Regions from separate parts of the Homo sapiens genome. Here region 2 is linked to region 1. The links come from fine-mapping of genetic effects on gene expression. Tissue or cell type: testis. Region 1 holds a variant in brackets; the other region holds the start of a gene. All regions are shown on one strand. Distances are from middle to middle.

Evidence for each region. PIP is the estimated chance that this variant, and not a neighbour inherited with it, causes the effect.
Region 2: PRAG1 starts here. The variant in region 1 is fine-mapped to the expression of PRAG1 in testis (GTEx, PIP 0.97).

What each region holds. Positions count from the first base shown.
Region 1 is chr8:8,680,496-8,688,586 of GRCh38, forward strand. LOC105379225 (a long non-coding RNA gene) reads right to left here and starts at 6,778. Exons shown (of 3, transcript XR_948927.4): 1 at 6,411-6,778; 2 at 6,179-6,286; 3 at 5,566-5,644. The variant G/A (reference allele first, on the strand shown) is at 3,523.
Region 2 is chr8:8,381,701-8,389,804 of GRCh38, forward strand. It overlaps PRAG1 (PEAK1 related, kinase-activating pseudokinase 1), which reads right to left and starts at 4,739. Exons shown (of 6, transcript NM_001080826.3): 1 at 4,621-4,739; 2 at 1-134. The coding sequence starts at 47. LOC105379222 (a long non-coding RNA gene) reads left to right here and starts at 7,864. Exons shown (of 3, transcript XR_002956679.2): 1 at 7,864-7,949. RefSeq lists an enhancer at 1-403 and a silencer at 4,442-5,121.

The DNA.
Region 1 (8,091 bases):
TAATCTTTCTGAGTCTTAGTTTCAACATTTGTAAAAAGGACATTTGTAAACTCCTAATCCACAGATTAAGTGTTAGCAGAGTTTGGACCAAGGACCGAAAACTGAAAACAAGAAGTGTCAAGCACCACCACGTTTTCAGGCAGGCTTTTGGCCATTTCCACAAGACTTGCAGAATTATCCCCAAACCCATTTGCCGCCATTGCCGAATGAGCCAATTACTCCTCTCAAGATATAAAAGAGAATATTAATAAGATGTGCTAGAGAGGCTGCCAGGGAGAGTGTCCTTGTGGAGGGCTGCTGGGGTGCCATGCAGTTCACCCAAATGGGAGGAGGCAGGTAAGGAAAGGGGTGCCCTTCTGCAACCCACCTGCTTCAGATCAGAGAGAAACCAGAAAATATTAGAAAATGTTGGAAAACTTGAAGTGTGGAGAGTATGCATGGACTGGTGTCTCATTCATGGTTTTTGTTTTGCTTTGTTTTTTAGAGACAGGGTGTCACTGTGTCACCCAGGCTGGAGTGCAGTGGCATGATCATAGCTCACCGCAGCCTTGAACTTCTGGGCTCAGTCAATCCTCCTACCTCAGTTTCCTGAGGAACAAGGACCACAGGTGTGCACCACCATGCCTGACTAATTAAAAAAAAGTTTTTAGAGAGGGGATCTTGCCATGTTGCCCAGGCTGGTCTCAAACTCCCGGCCTCAAGCGATCCTCCCACCTCATCCTCCCAAAATGCTGGGATTATAGGTGTAAGCCACCATGCCCAGCCTCACTTGTGTTTTATAAAAAGGCTGAAAGCGAGAAGCTGTGGCTGAACTTCCCTGGAGGCAGAGGGAGGAGTGGGCTCTAGGAGGAGCTAGAAGCACCACACCAGGGGCATCACAGCGGCTATGACTTCCATGGGCCAGATGGCCTTGATCTGGGCCAAAGAAAGAAAGAAGGAGACTCCATCTGAGAAGACCATCTTGGGAGGAGGGGAGGTGGCAGCAGTAATCCCCACCTACAGGGAGTCAGAGTGGATAGAAGTTGAAGAGGCCAACCCAGGAATGATCATTGGTTGTGCCCAATGGGGCTGTCCAAGATCCCCACAAGAGGGACCCAGGAGACACACAATCCATATGTGGCCATGTGCCACACTTGTGTGGGCAGATTAGCACTGCCCCAGTCAAAGACAGCCTTTTCAGCCCCTCAACACTTCTCCTCTCTTCCCTTGAACCCCAAAGGAGCACAGTAAGTTCGGGGAAAGGACTAGTGGAAGACAGATGAGGGGATAGGAAGGAAGTTAACTGTGGCCTGGCCACACTGTAGACCTCCTAGCTGGAGGCAGGATGCGTCTAAGGAGAGGAAACACTGTGGTGAATTGGATGTGGGTTGGGGCTGGGTGCGGTGTCTCGTGTCCATAATCCCAATAATTCAGGAGGCCAAAGCGAGAGGATCGCTCAGGGCTGAGAATTTGAGACCAGTATGGCCAACACAGCAAGCCTATGTCTTTATGTATTTACTTTAAAAATATTTTTTAAAATAAAAATAAAAAATAAATGTGTGTTGGCATTTCAACTATGTATCAGATTTTTTAATATCTGAAGGTGATAGGTAAATCAATGAACTCAGAAATTCATCCAAGGACAGAGAAGAGCAATTATTGGAAAAATACATGCCATGATATTGAGGAAGAATCAGGTTGGTTTTTACTGTCTCTCTGCAGAGCCCGCCTTGTACAAAGAGCCCTGGGAGATACCGGGAAAATGGGGAGGCCACACCATGGCAGAAGACTCTTTCTAGAGGGATGTCTCTGCCCTGATCTTCCTAGGGAATTTTTGCACTTTTTCTTATGGAGCCTGGAGGAGCATGATGAGTGATGGTGGCCAAACTGGTTCTGCAGAGATGGTCTGGCACCTGCTGTGGTTGAGCTTTGAAGCCTCTGCCAAACACAAGGAGGGCACAGGAAAAGTCACATTTCACACCCCGTTGCAAAAGAATAGGATGAGTTGATGTGAGCTAAGTACTATGCACAATGCCTGGCACCCAGGAAATGGTATATGGAAGGTACAGCATCTTCATTTTACTATAGACAGAATGGATGCTAAAATTCATCCAAATCTTTAGTTGTCTCTATAATCTGAAATTCCACTCTCTGATTAATAAAGTTGTCTTTAAGAAAGTGGTTTTTCATTACGGAAATGAAAATTGTGACTAACAAACTCAAGTCCAGCCTCAGTCTCAGGAGGATCCGTTATGCAAAAAGGACCCTGCCTTTTGCAACATACAACACACAAACCCACAGCGGGTTCCAGTCTCAATGGCTCACTTGTCTGACAGGATCTTCGCTCAGAAAGAAACAATTGTCAGGTTCATGTTGTGGCCTAGCAAGAGTTTGGAAAGTTCCGTAAAGAAAAATAATGTAGACAAATTTAGAACCTGCCCCAGGTGTGTTGATTTGACGCCAAACCATGGATAGGTAACTTGATTCAGCTGAACCTCGTTAAAATAATGTTGGAAAACATTACATTACTGCAACGTCCTTTTTATTTATTTATTTATTTACTTATTTTTTTATTTTTGAGAGAGAGTCTTGCCCTGTTGCCCAGGTTGGAGTGCAGTGGCGCAATCTTGGCTCACTACAACTTCTGCCTCCTGGGTTCAAGCACTTATCCCACTTCAGCCTCCCAAGCAGCTGAGATTACAGGTGTGCACCACTACGCCTGGCTAATTTTTGTATTTTTAGTAGAGATGGGGTTTCACCATGTTGGCCAGGCTGGTCTCAAACTCCTGACCTCACGTGATCCACCAGCCACGGCCTCCCAAAGTTCTGGGATTACAGGCGTGAACCACCACGCTCGGCCCATTACTGCAACACTCTAAGAAATCGGTAATAACCATGTCATTACAGAGAAGCCCAAACCTTCCTATTCTATTTGACATGCACTAATTGAAAAAAGGCACTTTGATTGCTGTAACATAAGCCTATCATCCACTGAATTAGAGTCCATAATTATTAGAATCTATTTTGATGAGCACCTGCTTTGGGGGATGAAATACTCTATATGAGGCCTCTTTCTATCTAATATAGGACTCTTTATCTTTTTAAATGGTGATTTGGTGGCAGATGACAGTCAACATGTCTCTGAATCATCATGAGTTTTTAGCATTTTACGGAACTGGTTTGGAGATTAAAACTAACATCATTTTGTTACAACAGTGGTGCTGTGTAATAAAAAGGAGAAGTCATTCGTAGAGTTCATAAACCTTTTTTTAATAATTTAGATTTTAGGCCGGGCACAGTGGCTCACTCCTGTAATCCCAGCACTTTGGGAGGCCAAGGCAGGCGGACCACCTGAGGTCAGGAGTTTGAGACCAGCCTGACCAACATGGTGAAACCCCGTGTCTACTAAAAGTAAAAAATTTGCTGGGCATGGTGGCATGTGCCTGTAGTCCCAGCTACTCGGGAGGCTGAAGCAGGAGAATCGCTTGAACCCGGGAGGCGGAGGTTGCAGTGAGCCGATATCACGCCACTGCACTCCAGCCT[G/A]GGAGGTTGCAGTGAGCTGAGATTGTGCCGCTGCACTCCAGCCTGGGTGACAGAGTGAGACTACATCTCAAAAATAATAATAATTTAAAAAAGTGAATAATTTATATTTTAATTCATTCAACAACTATTCAGTGAGGGCTATTACATGCCCATAGGTAAGTGTTGCAATAAAAAGAAGAAATTTTTACATTTCTATTTTTTAAGGAAGGCATTTTCTGACATTTATGAGTAAGGATATTCCAAGAATATTGTCATGTATCTTGTTGTTTCACAGCTCAAGCTATGGGAATGAAAATTTTAATCTGAGTTTCTAATTATTTCCCCGAGACAGCTTGAGAGAGGGGGAGGTAACTTCCCCCATCTCCTAGGTAGGTGGTAGGTAACTAACCCTGCAGTGCAGAACCAATGCTCTGAAAATGACCAGGAAAAATGCCCCAATATCTACTGCTTCCTTCTAAGTGGGAAGATGGGAAAAGAATATTGGAAGAAAAAAATCAAAGTGATTATGAGAAAATCATAAGGGTAAAAATAAAACATGAGAGAGAGGAAAAGCAGCAGCTCTATATTATTTTTTAAGTCTTGTTATGGCAGTTGGTTGCTTTTATTTTCAAGTGGGTTAACCTGACATTGTATTCACTTTGACTTTAAATGCTAGAAGAGTACATTTCAGCAAAAAGAAAAAAAAAAGGCAATGGGAAACTTTCATTGTTATAAATGAAAAGTTGGCCAGGCATGGTGGCTCATGCCTGTAATTTGAGAATTTTGGGAGGCTGAGGTAGGAGGATCACCTGAGGTCAGGAGTTCAAGACCAGCCTGGCCAACATGGTGAAACTCCGTCTTTACTACAGAAATTGGCTGGGTGTGGTGGCATGTGCCTATAATCTCAGCTACTCAGGAGGCTGAGGCAGGAGAATCATTTGAACCTTGGAGGCAGAGGTTGCAGTGAATCGAGATCATGCCACTGCACTCCGGCCTGGGCAACAAAGCAAGACTCCGTCGCAAAAAAAAAAAAAAAATATATATATATATATATATATATGTATGAAAAGTGACCGTAAACATCTAGGGAGCTGCAGGTGGAAAGAGACAACACCCAAACAGATAAACAAGTGTCTAAAAATGCTGGCAACCGAGCAAGCAAACAAAAGGCATCAGACTTCACCTTGATCCATTATCAGATCTCAGAGTCATCTATGCAATCTTCCTCCCTGAACTTTCTAAATATCCAAAGCCAAATTCCTCCCCTCCCACGTCCCTGTCCCTGGCCTCGCCATTCACACACACCTTCTTTTCCCTGTCTTGCTGTGAAACTTGGCTTTCGCCATGCACCCAGTCCCCAGGCTAACCACCACCCCCAGTACCACATTACTTTTGCTCTTCTCTTCTGGAATACTGACTTCCAAGTCTAACATCTGTCACGTGATACACCGCAATTAAATAGCCTCCTAACCAGCCCCCCTTTCTCTCTGTTCTGCTACAGAGTGATGGCTCAAAACCAAATCAGGGCATGGCATTACCTGGCTTTAAAACCACTCATAGTTCTCTCACCTGCAGAATAAAGACCACACCCTCCAGCGTGACATTCAAGTTTTTTCTGAACCTGCCTCAGCAGCGTCACAGTGATGGCGATGGTGAGATCACACACACACATTTGTACATTTATAGTAGGACAAACTTCATGACCCTCAGGAGTTACTCTTCCAGGTTTTAGCTCCCACTGTTTCCTCTGCCTGGATCGCTTTTCTCCTTTAACTGCCTGGTGAAGTCTCATCCTTCAAGTACCAGCTCCCCAGCTCTATTACTTCCTGGAAGAGAGCTCACATGGAGCTAGAGTTAAGAGTGGTTCCTGCTGACGGCCCAGCACAACAAGGCAGAATGAGTGTGTGTGTCTACAGGCAGGAGTGGCTTATGCTACTTAAGAAAATCAAAGAAACAAGAGGACATATTTTTAAAATAACAGAAATGGAAGCAAACTGAATGAATTTTTTAAAGTTGCTGGAAAGAGAAGAATGAAACATGTCACAAAATAAAGAGACAAGATGATTTCTGGTCCCTTTTTATTTTCAGATGGCTTCACTTGACATTCAGTTTCACTGTAAGCACTGGAACAGCACAAGCCAGCCTTTTATTAAAAAGAGAGAGAGAGAGAGCGCCATTTATTTCCATATTAACTAGAAACAAGCAATGAGTCAGGTGTTTAAAAAAGAACATGATTGCCTTAATATCATCAACAGTGCAACCTCTGAATGAGGATGTGGGCTAGTAAAAATAAAAATAATGATTGATACATTTTTTTCTATTTACTTATCTACAGGGATTAAAAGGATTAGCTAGATGATGGATTGGAATGTTAAAACTCTCAGAAAACATATTTCCCTAGTTACAGATACAAACAATGAAGAACACTTGTCTTTGTGTCAAATTCTAATAAATGATATTCAGGTATATTACAAAGAAGTCAAAACGCTTATTTCAATGCCAAAGGGGGAGCTGGTGAAGTAAACTGGTTGTAACCTATTAGAGTTCTCCTTTCCCATGTTCTGCAGGGAAGAAAACAAATCAGTTCATTTTCCAAGTGCAGATCATCTCCAAATGTCATGTGCAAAATTATGCTTACCTGTCTATTAAGATAAAATGAATCAGCAGTGAAACTTACATTATGTTAAAGACAGAACAGCAAAGACGAGACAAGGTATAAATTCTGAACCGTCTAGCTAAATATTATAGGAGGTGTCCTTTTCACTTTGTAGGTCCTAGCTGAAACCTGTTGCAAAAAGGGTGGTGAAGAGTTAGCTGAAATCAAGATTCCTTGGAAGGCAATCCACAATGGATTTGCAGAATGAGGTCTGCAAGGACAAAAGTCAAATTAAATCATGTCCTTTTATCACCTGGCTAGAGACTGGTCCATACCCCCTACCATTTCCTTGATTTGGTTTACACTAAGACATTTCTGGGCCTTTGCTACTCCTGTCTCTGCCTGAAATGTCCTTCCCCAACCTTCTCTGACTCATAAAATCTTATTGATCCTTTATGACCCAGTCCAAATGTCACTTCAGTGACCCTCCCACTTTGGCCCCATGTCCCTGGAAACAGCCCTCTGCATATACTTTTATTATACTGTTTATCTCTTGATATCATGGCTGTTTCCTCCTATGCCTGTCTCTCCCTCTGAACTCAGCCTGTTCCATTTTTCTGAGCACCAAGCTCAGTGAGCATTCAAAGAATGCTTGATGAAAGAATTACTAAATTAATGCATAAATGGAGATGAAATTGCTGGCCTTAAACCTGCCCATGTCATCCCCTCTCTTAAACTGTCTACTCCCAGTTTCCAGTATCCCTTTGTTGTAAGGCAAGGCCATCAGATGATTTCCAAAATAACTACAACTCCGGGATTCTAAAGCAGTTTTCTTCTGTATCAGTTAATTATTGCTGCATGACAGTCTATCCCCAAAGTTAATGATTGACTATATATCATTTCTCTATCATTTGATGTTCTTGTCTGGGCTCATTCATGAGACTACATTCAGCTGGCTGCAGTGCAGGGACCAAGATGGACTTGTCAGGAGCCTTGGATCGAGCTGGCAGCTGGGTACCTTGGTCCTCTTCCAAGCCTCCTTTCATCCTCCACGCACTAGACTAGCTTTTTTACTTGGACAAGCTCCAATGCGTGAGCAACTATCAAGCCTCTGCTACGCCATACTTGCCGGTGTCCCATTGACCGAGGCAAGTCACGTGGCCAAGCCTAGTCATTGAGGGGTGAATTAGATTCAGCCTCTTTCTAAGCAAAGTGGCAAATAATTTGTAGTCATTTTTAATCTACTACGACTTCATTGAAATCCTATTAATTTTCTTGTCACCACCATTGTAAATGGGATCTTTTTTCTATTTTGCCTCTTCCTGTCAATATTTTTACCCTTAAATGTAGGCCCTTATCTAATTTAATTGGTTAGCCCTTCCAGCTCAATGCTTAAAAAATAGTTCTGAACTTGCTGGGAATGCTTCTGCTATTAAACCACTTATAAAGTTGATCATTGATTTAAGTAAATATTCTTTACCACTGAGGGAAATATCCCTCTATTTTATTTCACCACGGGTTTTTGTTGTTGTTGTTGTTGTTGTTGTTTTAATTAGTCGTTCATGTTGAATGTTAACAAAATAGAATCTTAGAGGATCGAAAAACTGTCTATCAGGTACTATGCTTATTAACCGGGTGATTAAATAACCTGTACACCAAACCCCCGTGACATGCAATTTACACACATAAAAACCTCCAAGTGTATCCCTGAACCTAAATAAAAGTTTAAAAATTGATTTTAAATTTTACAAAAAGAATCTGTTAGTATTTTTTAATTAATATAACGGGTTATATGAATAGATTTCTCACTACCGAGCATTCATTCTGTTTTTTATACAGATCCTCCCTCTCCGGCCTCCCACCCTCAGCTGTCAAGAGATGACTATTCTGCATACAGACTGTCAATGGATTTCAGCCTTCCAGTTCCACTTCTTCCTCTTCCCCAGCTGTTAGCATCTAGTTCTGTGCTGTCCAACCCAATCACAATATGCCAC
Region 2 (8,104 bases), 300 kb before region 1:
GCAGACATTTTCAGGCTCTCGGGGTTCAGGCAGAGGGTCTGGTGCATCTTGAGCCGACAGGGTGCTGGTTCATCTTGCGCCCGGCTCTCTGGTGCAGTTTTGTGGGATTCAGAGGTGGGTCACAGAGCGGCTTCCTAGAAAGGCAGGACAGTTTCCTGATTAGAGATTTGCCATGCCAGACAATGGGTGCATTATCAATTAGAGTCTCACTATTTGATCAGGGAGAAGGAGGAGAAAAAGGTAAAGATTAGGATCCCATTTATTTTGGGACCCTCGCCCATTTGTCACAAGGCTCTTAAACATTCTCTGGTGGTGTGGCCTTATCAGAAGCTGTAAAAACTAAACATAGCCTTGTTGCTTTAAAGGAGTAAATAAAAGACATTTCGGTCCCCTAAAATCCTGGGTGGGGAGTCCCCTAAAATCCTGGGAGGTTTTGGGCAGTTATGGGAAGAAATCACGTAGGGTTTAAGATGAGAAGCTGGTACGTCATCCATGTATTCCCTGACACCGGGGCCTAGAGTCTGGGACGCTGACCCACAGAAACAAGAACTGTCAAGCAGTACAGCAAATAAAAACAATGGCTTTTGGAAAATAATGTTTGACCAAGAACTGTGTGAGAGGGGAGGCAGCTTTAGGCCCTGAAAGGTGCATTGTAATCCACACTTCCAACCAGGTGGAGAAAGGAATGGTTGGGAAACGGGAGAAGTGGGGTGCTGGCCTGTCCTCTAGACCTTATGCAGAGTCTGGCATCTTGAGAAATATCCCTTGCTTAATATACATTACTTGACCGTGTGCTGCTGAGGTCCACAATGCTGGGTGTTATAGGCCAAAGGGGCAAACCAGTAGTAAGACAAATTCATGGTCAAAGGTGGCTGGATAGATGATAAGAGAGAGAAGAGATTAACGAAGAGCTATTTCCAAGTGATGGCTCTGGAGAGAAGGCAATTGGCTTGCTCAAAAAATTCATTGCTTCTTAGAGTAAAACTGCAAGTAACAGTTTGCACCATGGTCCCTTGTAAATTCACCACTGAGAAGGAGCTCAAAGAGTTGCAGCCATTAACCAATTACCTTGAAATCATTCCATCAGGTAGCTGTTGTCCCAATTTTACAGGTGGGGAAACTATGGCAAACACAAGAACTTGGACCAGCCCATAGACACGGGAGAGTTTGCCCATTCTAGAAACAGAAGCCAACTTTGCAGGCGGCTCCTCCCTGCAGTGGTGATTTGCGCATTGCTCCTGGCTCTTCTTAGCCTATTTAAAATAAACTGACTTCCCATAAGGAGAATGTTCAAGAGCAAAATCTTCCTTAAGAACATAAGGGTGAATAGGTTCTCATTAAATAGGGACCATTTTGCCTTAGGGTTTTCTCTCCACTTTCCTCCCATAAGGATCTGCCTTAAGTTTGATAATCTCTAAACTGTCAACAGGACTAACCAGGTGGAATGAGCCGGGTACCCCAAAAATCATTCCAGAGTGTTTGTGGGAAGTGCTCTCTTTTATCTCCACACTCATAGACAGGGGTGTTCATTCAACAAGTGCTGAAGCTACGTGTGCCTCTTTTCCCTCCAAAGTGAAAAATGGGTTGAGGCCAGGCGCGGTGGCTCACGCCTGTAATCCCAGCACTTTGGGAGGCCGAGGCAGGACGATCGCTTGAGCCCAGGAGTTTGAGACCAGCCTGGGTAACACAGAGACACTCTGTCTTTACAAAGATAATAATTATTTAAAAAAACTATCCAGGTGTAGCCATGCATGCCTGTGGTCCCAGCTACTTGGGAGGCTGAGGTAGGAGGACTGCCTGAGCCCAGGAGGTCAAGGCTGCAGTGAGCCATGATCACACCACTGCACTCCAGCCTGGGTGACTAGAGTGAGACCCTGTCTAAAAAAACAAAAAAAAAGTTAAGAATAAAGCCCACTGCATCTTTAAGCTAAATAAATCCTCTGAAATAAAAGAAAAGTATCTTTTAGCAGTTATTGTTAGGGTCTCACAGGTCCTTTTCTTTAAGAAGACTGTTAGCTAGGTTCTTCTCCTCCTCCAAATACACCCAAGTAGCAGGTTCCTTCTTTGCCAAGTTCTCCAGAAGAGGTCACTGGGCTTCAACAAGCGGAGGAAATAGCCAGGTTTTGTCTTTCTCTTATAATCTCAGGCCACAGAGAACTGTAGCCTTGCTGCTAAGTTTTGGGAGGGGGAAAAAGCAGAGGAAGTATTCCAGCCTTCAGGAATAGGCAGTAGGTCCCTTCCTGGGACGCTGATGGGTGAAGACTGTCTACACCTTCTAGGCCACAGAAAGGACACTGTCCAGCCCACCTCCACTGCAGGCAGATGCTCCCATGCCTGCTCCGCGGGATGGAGGAAGACAGTTTGGAAACCAGCTCTGTGTGGGCTCTGCAAGTTCCCACAGCTCCTCCTGACACTGGGCTATCTGAGGAGGTGGGTGCCCAACCACTTCCTCAGGGTCTATCACAGATTCACAAAGCAGCAGTTCTGCTTGGCGACTTATTGCCTCCTCAACAGGCAAGTAAGAACACAAACTTGTTTTTGCGGAAGGGGTGACATTGGTATCAGAGGCCCTACTTTCTAAGATTCCCCAACCTTTGCACAGCCCTGTGCAAAGGGAGTGTGGAAGGATCTGGATTGCTAGCGTGGGGGAAGTTTCCTTGAGAATGTCTCATCAGTTTACGAGCACTCTTTGCTCCCATTCTCAGCTCAGAAATCCTTGGATGTTTAGAGAGGCAACTTTCATCACACGACTGCCAGGGACGGATGGACGCAAAGATTTTTAAAGGGAAGTCATTGAATAAGAAAAGAACAAATGAAGCCCTGGGCTTCCCACTGTCATTGACTCACTGCATCCTGTTAAAACTGGTTTCTCAGTCGCAGCAAACAGAATTTACCACCGCATGCAGCCAAAAAAAAAAAAAAAAAAAAAAAACCTCTTTTCCCGTTGCACTTCTGTGCCTGGAATTATCTCCTATTTGTTTTAAGTAAAAGATGGTGAGAAACACAAGTGGCACCCACAAAGCCTTGCCTCGCCTTGCCTGGTGCAGCAGTGCCAGCTCTCCACAGCATGGGGAAGGCACTTCGCAGCCCACATTCCTTACTTCTGAGGGGAGGCAGCCCCCAGAATTATGCAAATCCTCCCCATTTCAGTAGGAGGCTGCAGTGTCAGATTAGAAAAAAGAGCTCAGCATTCTTTCTGATCCAAGTCATGAAAAAAATGTCTTTGCCTCTGCAAACTTCTGCACTAGATTTGTGGCTACAGTTTGCAAGACTGAAGCTGTCAGATACACTCCCACCCCATTTCAAAAAAGAATCTGAAGAATCAAGGTGGCCAGATCTTTAAGATTAAATATTTTGGCCCAAAATACCCCCTCAGACTTACATCAGAAGTTGCTTATGCCTTATTCTGAAGTGACAGAATTGCAGAAAACATTCACCTAAAATTTTTTTCTGTATGTTACAGTTAAATTAATGCAACGCCAGTAAAAGGAAAGAAATATGTGTGGAAAGTGTCTGAACTTCAGCACACTCCACTGGCCAGGGCTGACCAGGCAGAAAGGAGAAAGTGACAACTTTACCACCCACTAGCCCCCTGCCTCCCTACTCACGCAGAGGGTAAATTACGATATTCACCCAACTTTTCCTTTTCTTTTTTCTTCCTCCAGTGCTGGAGGAAAGAAAATCTCAGAGGGAGGAATGTGGTTTTGCACCCACTACAGTCGAAACCAACCAGACCTCAGGAGAGAAAAATAACTGCGGAATTCCCTAGGGCTTTCTGTCAAATTTTCTTCTCAGAAAGGGAAGGGGAGAGGAGTTGTTAAGAATAGTTCAGGCCAGTGATCAGGAAAGCCTTCTGAGCCTGACTCCGCACTGAATGCATCGCCAAAACTCCTCGCCCCTAGACCATTGGGCTTTGCTATCGGCTCTGCAAAACCATGTGCAGGGAGAGCTTACCTGAGAGAAACGCACACACCGTGAGCTGGCGCTCTCCGCTGCGAATGCCCGGCCGCCTCCATGCCCAGCAGAGGATTCTATGTTCTAAGTGTGTGTGTCCCCGGATACCAGCAAAGGTTAATAACGTGCTCACAGCATGCGTTTCAGAGGGCTCAGCCAGGGCTCGGGGAAAAGGGCATCATCTCGTTGCCTCTGGAGCCCCGCTGCTGCATACCCTGCACCCCCAAACCATCCCCCCGGGTCCTGGTCCCAGCAGCCAGGCGGCCTTCCGTCTCTCCCCCTTGACAATACTCTAGCGGTGGAAAGCAGTCCTCAAAGCGCTTCAGCCTCCGGCCGCAGACAGAGCAGCAAGACCAGAGAAACCATCCTAACAGTCGGTCCTCCCTCCTGGAACTCGTAGGAAAGTTTCCCCGTTTTAAAGAGCGCGATTCTCGAATGAATCAAAAACACCCTCCAGCTCCTCGGTCCTCCCGGCCGGGCGCCTCCCTGCACCTCGGGCACCACCCGGGGCTCACGCGGCCCCGGCACTGCCCACTTCCCGAGCGGTCGCCTGTCACCCCGGGGGTAGCCCGCTCGGCGATCGCAGCGCCCCTCCAAAGCTCCCCTCTGCGACCACGCTCGCCAGACAAAAAGAGGCCGAATTTGGAGAGCGCGTCGCGGGCTCACCTCTGGGCTGCGCTCCCCCGGCCCCTCCGTCGGTCTCCGAGCCGCCAGCCGCCCGGCCGGAGCATTGTTCGCAGAAGGTCTGCGCGCGGTGCGTGCCCGGCCGCGGGCGGGTGGCTTCTGCCTGGGCCCGGCGGCCGGGTGGCAGCTGTGAGCGCGGCTCCGCCCCCTCCGCCTCCGGTGACGCCGCCCGCCCCAGCTCACGCCGCACCTCCGCAGTCCCTGCCGCCGCCCGGCCCCGCCTGGCCCGCGCGCCCCGCCGCCCGGCTTGCGCCTGCCGCTCCCACCCGGCGGTCTCCTACCCCCAGGGCCCCGACTCCTCCAAAGTCTCCAGGCCCCGGGACTCCCTCTCTTGCCCACCCTCCCGCCCCGGACCGGCAGGCTCCGCCCCCAGCCCCAGACTTGGCGCGGGCTGACCCCCGAGCCCAGCACCCGTTTGCACCCCCTCCTCGGTGGGGACCCTGCACAGCTCTGGAGGGGCGAGCTCTGGCGTTGCAATCCTCCTTTTGCCATCATGCGTGTATAGGTGCCCGGCATCACTTCATCCAGCCGGCCCTGCGGGACCCTGGGAAGAGAGGGAGAAGGAAGGGGAAACGAGGAAGTGTGGGGTCGGGAGTGGAATACAGGTCAGGGTCCGAGGCGGGCTCTGAAAGCCACGTGAGCACAGCGAGCCTCAGCTCTCCCTACCTCTGGGAAGAGGGTGGCGCCGGAGGGAGCAGGGCTGGAAGTCCCGGTGGCGGATTCCAGGTTCCGCTCAGTCCCTGGACTGCAGGATTCTGGCAAATTGCTTAACCTCTTTGAACTTTAGTTTTCTGGATGTAGAATGCAAGCGTTGCACTGCAGGGACCTGGCCTTCTACCATGCTGGGACATCCAAGTCTTCCGCAGGCCAGTAATACACCTGTGTTTACACCGTTTCCAGTGAGTCATTCACTGAGATAGAACGAGTTCGAGATAGTCCTCGGGCTAAAAAAATCTTTTCACTGGGAGTATAATAGCTTAAGACCCAGTCAGTCCTGTAGCTTGACCTGGGTGTTTACTCGGGGAGCCAGGGCTATGGTCACCTCCCAGGGCCATGCCGGGTGGGAAGAATTCAGTGAAATGGAATAGGAAGAGGACCCCCCTCCCCCACAAAACAATACCTGCGGCTTCTCTCGCCCTCTATCCCCTCCCCAGGAAGGCAGTTTATTTTGACTCCAGTGAAGGTCCTCTGCCAGTCAGCCTGCGAGCCCCCACCCACTGAGAGGAGGAAGATGGGCCCCCACCCCCACCCCCAGATCCCTGGCTCTCCTCTTTGCTGCTGTGGGTGTGGACAGAGAGGGAAGATGTGTATTTGAGGTTTGGCTTCTGTGTGAGGAAAGGGAAAAAAGGATCCAGGGAATTCTTCCTCATGTTCCAGTGACACCCATGCCTCCTAAGAGGACAGAATCTGGGGGAAGCTGTAGAGGGATGGGAGTGCAATGGACATTCCTTAAGGACCTACCCAGCGCTAAGCAATCCTATGAGGAGAGCATCATTATCCCCATTCTACAGATAAGAAAACTGAGGCTCGGGGGCCTCACAATTTGCTGGGGTTCCTCAGCTGAAAAGTGGTAGTACTAAGATTGGAACCAAAGGCTGTCTGGCTTCGCTGGTAGGCAAGTCTACTCTGCCACTCTGCCCTTGCCAAGTGCAGGTAGTCCAGCCCTATTTTTCTCTCTCCCCTAAGTGGAGAGAAATCATTTGAACAAATACTGGCCGTGCGCGGTGGCTCACACCTGTAATCCCAGCATTTTGGGAGGCCGAGGCTGGCAGATCACCTGAGGCCAGGAGTTCAAGAACAGCCTGGGCAATGTGGTATAACCTCATCTCTACTAAAAATACAAAAATTAGTCGAGTGTGGTGGTGGGCGCCTGTAATCCCGGCTACTCAGGAGGCTGAGGCAGGAGACTCACATGAGCCAGGGAGGTGGAGGTTGCAGTGAGCTGAGATCGCACCACTACACTCCAGCTTGGGTATCAGAGCAAGACCCTGTCTCAAAAAAAAAAAAAAAAAAAAAAGGAAGGGAAACTTTGGTTACACTTCATGAGCATCCAACAGAGCTGAAAGATCCAGACCCTACCAAGACTCAAGAGGGGAAGATGTTGATTAAACAGGTAGGTACAAAGTGGTCTGCAATGGAGAAATACAAAAGTGACTTCAGAAAGTGTGCAATTCATTTACACTGGGAGAGGGCAAACTAAGATGTTTGAGAAGTTCCTGGTTCTCAGGATTCAGGCTAAATGTTTCACTTCTTTCCTCTGTAAGAGAGACATTGACCTCACAGAATAAAGGCTGTGCTGAACACATAAAAGAAGCACTTACTTTTGCACTTTATTTTCTTCTCTTTACCTAACTTATTCTTTTTTTTTTTTTTCCTGGGATGGAGTTTCATCTTTCAATCAGGCTGGAGTGAAGTGGCAAGATCTTGTCTCACTGCAGCCTCCACTCCCCGGGTTCAAGCCATTCTCCTGCCTCAGCCTCCTGAGTAGCTGGGATTGCAGGCGGCCACCACCATGCCCTGCTAATTTTTCTATTTTTAGTAGAGACAGCATTTCACCATGTTGGGCCAGGCTGGTCTTGAACTCCTGACCTCAAGTTATCTGCCTGCCTCGGCCTCCCAAAGTGCTAGGATTACAGGTGTGAGCCACCGCGCCCGGCCCCTAATTTATTCTTAATACATGAACAGGCTAAAGAGCATAATTATAAGAGAAAGCCATAATGTGGCAAGACTTGTAGTTCTGTGGCATGGGGCAGTACTTGAAGGGTAAATTCAGTGTGTCTACAAAATAAAGTGTGTTCTTAAGTGGTTTGCTGTGCTCACACAAAGTAAATGCATTATACTGTAGTTGCTGACATATAATGTGCATCTTTTTAAAAGCCAGCAACATGGCCATAGAGACGACTTCATCTTGCCTAATGAAAAGAATCAAGAAACACTTCAAAGGAGTCACTGGGATGCACATAAAATACCCACACTCTTAGGCAGTGCTCTACCAGTGACTGTTAAGTATATGATATCCTCAGTCAAGCTACGGTAAGCTCATTCATTTTCATAAAGAATTCTTGCTTGAACTTCCAAACTGTACCCTGCAATGCAGTGTAATTTGTGTAGACACAGCATTCTGCTTCTAGCTACTTATCAGTCCATTTTTATGACACTTTTAACTGCAGGGCGTGGGCTCCCTGATACAGACCAGACCTTGAAGAACAGCAATTCCTCGTCAGAGTTTTAGTCCAGCGGCACCATTCCGTACAAGAGCAGTTATATTTTAGGAAACTGGGACAAGAGGTCAAGGCTGGGAGTGCTTCGGGGTGAGTAAAGTAAGGTAGTTTGGAATTAGGCAAAATGGCAGGATTAGGAAGGATGTGCCATTAAATTATACTGCAAAAATACAAGCTGGGGTATTGGAGAGGGGTCAGATAGTATGAAGATTGAGCCAAAGAAATCCCACACATATTATCTCCTC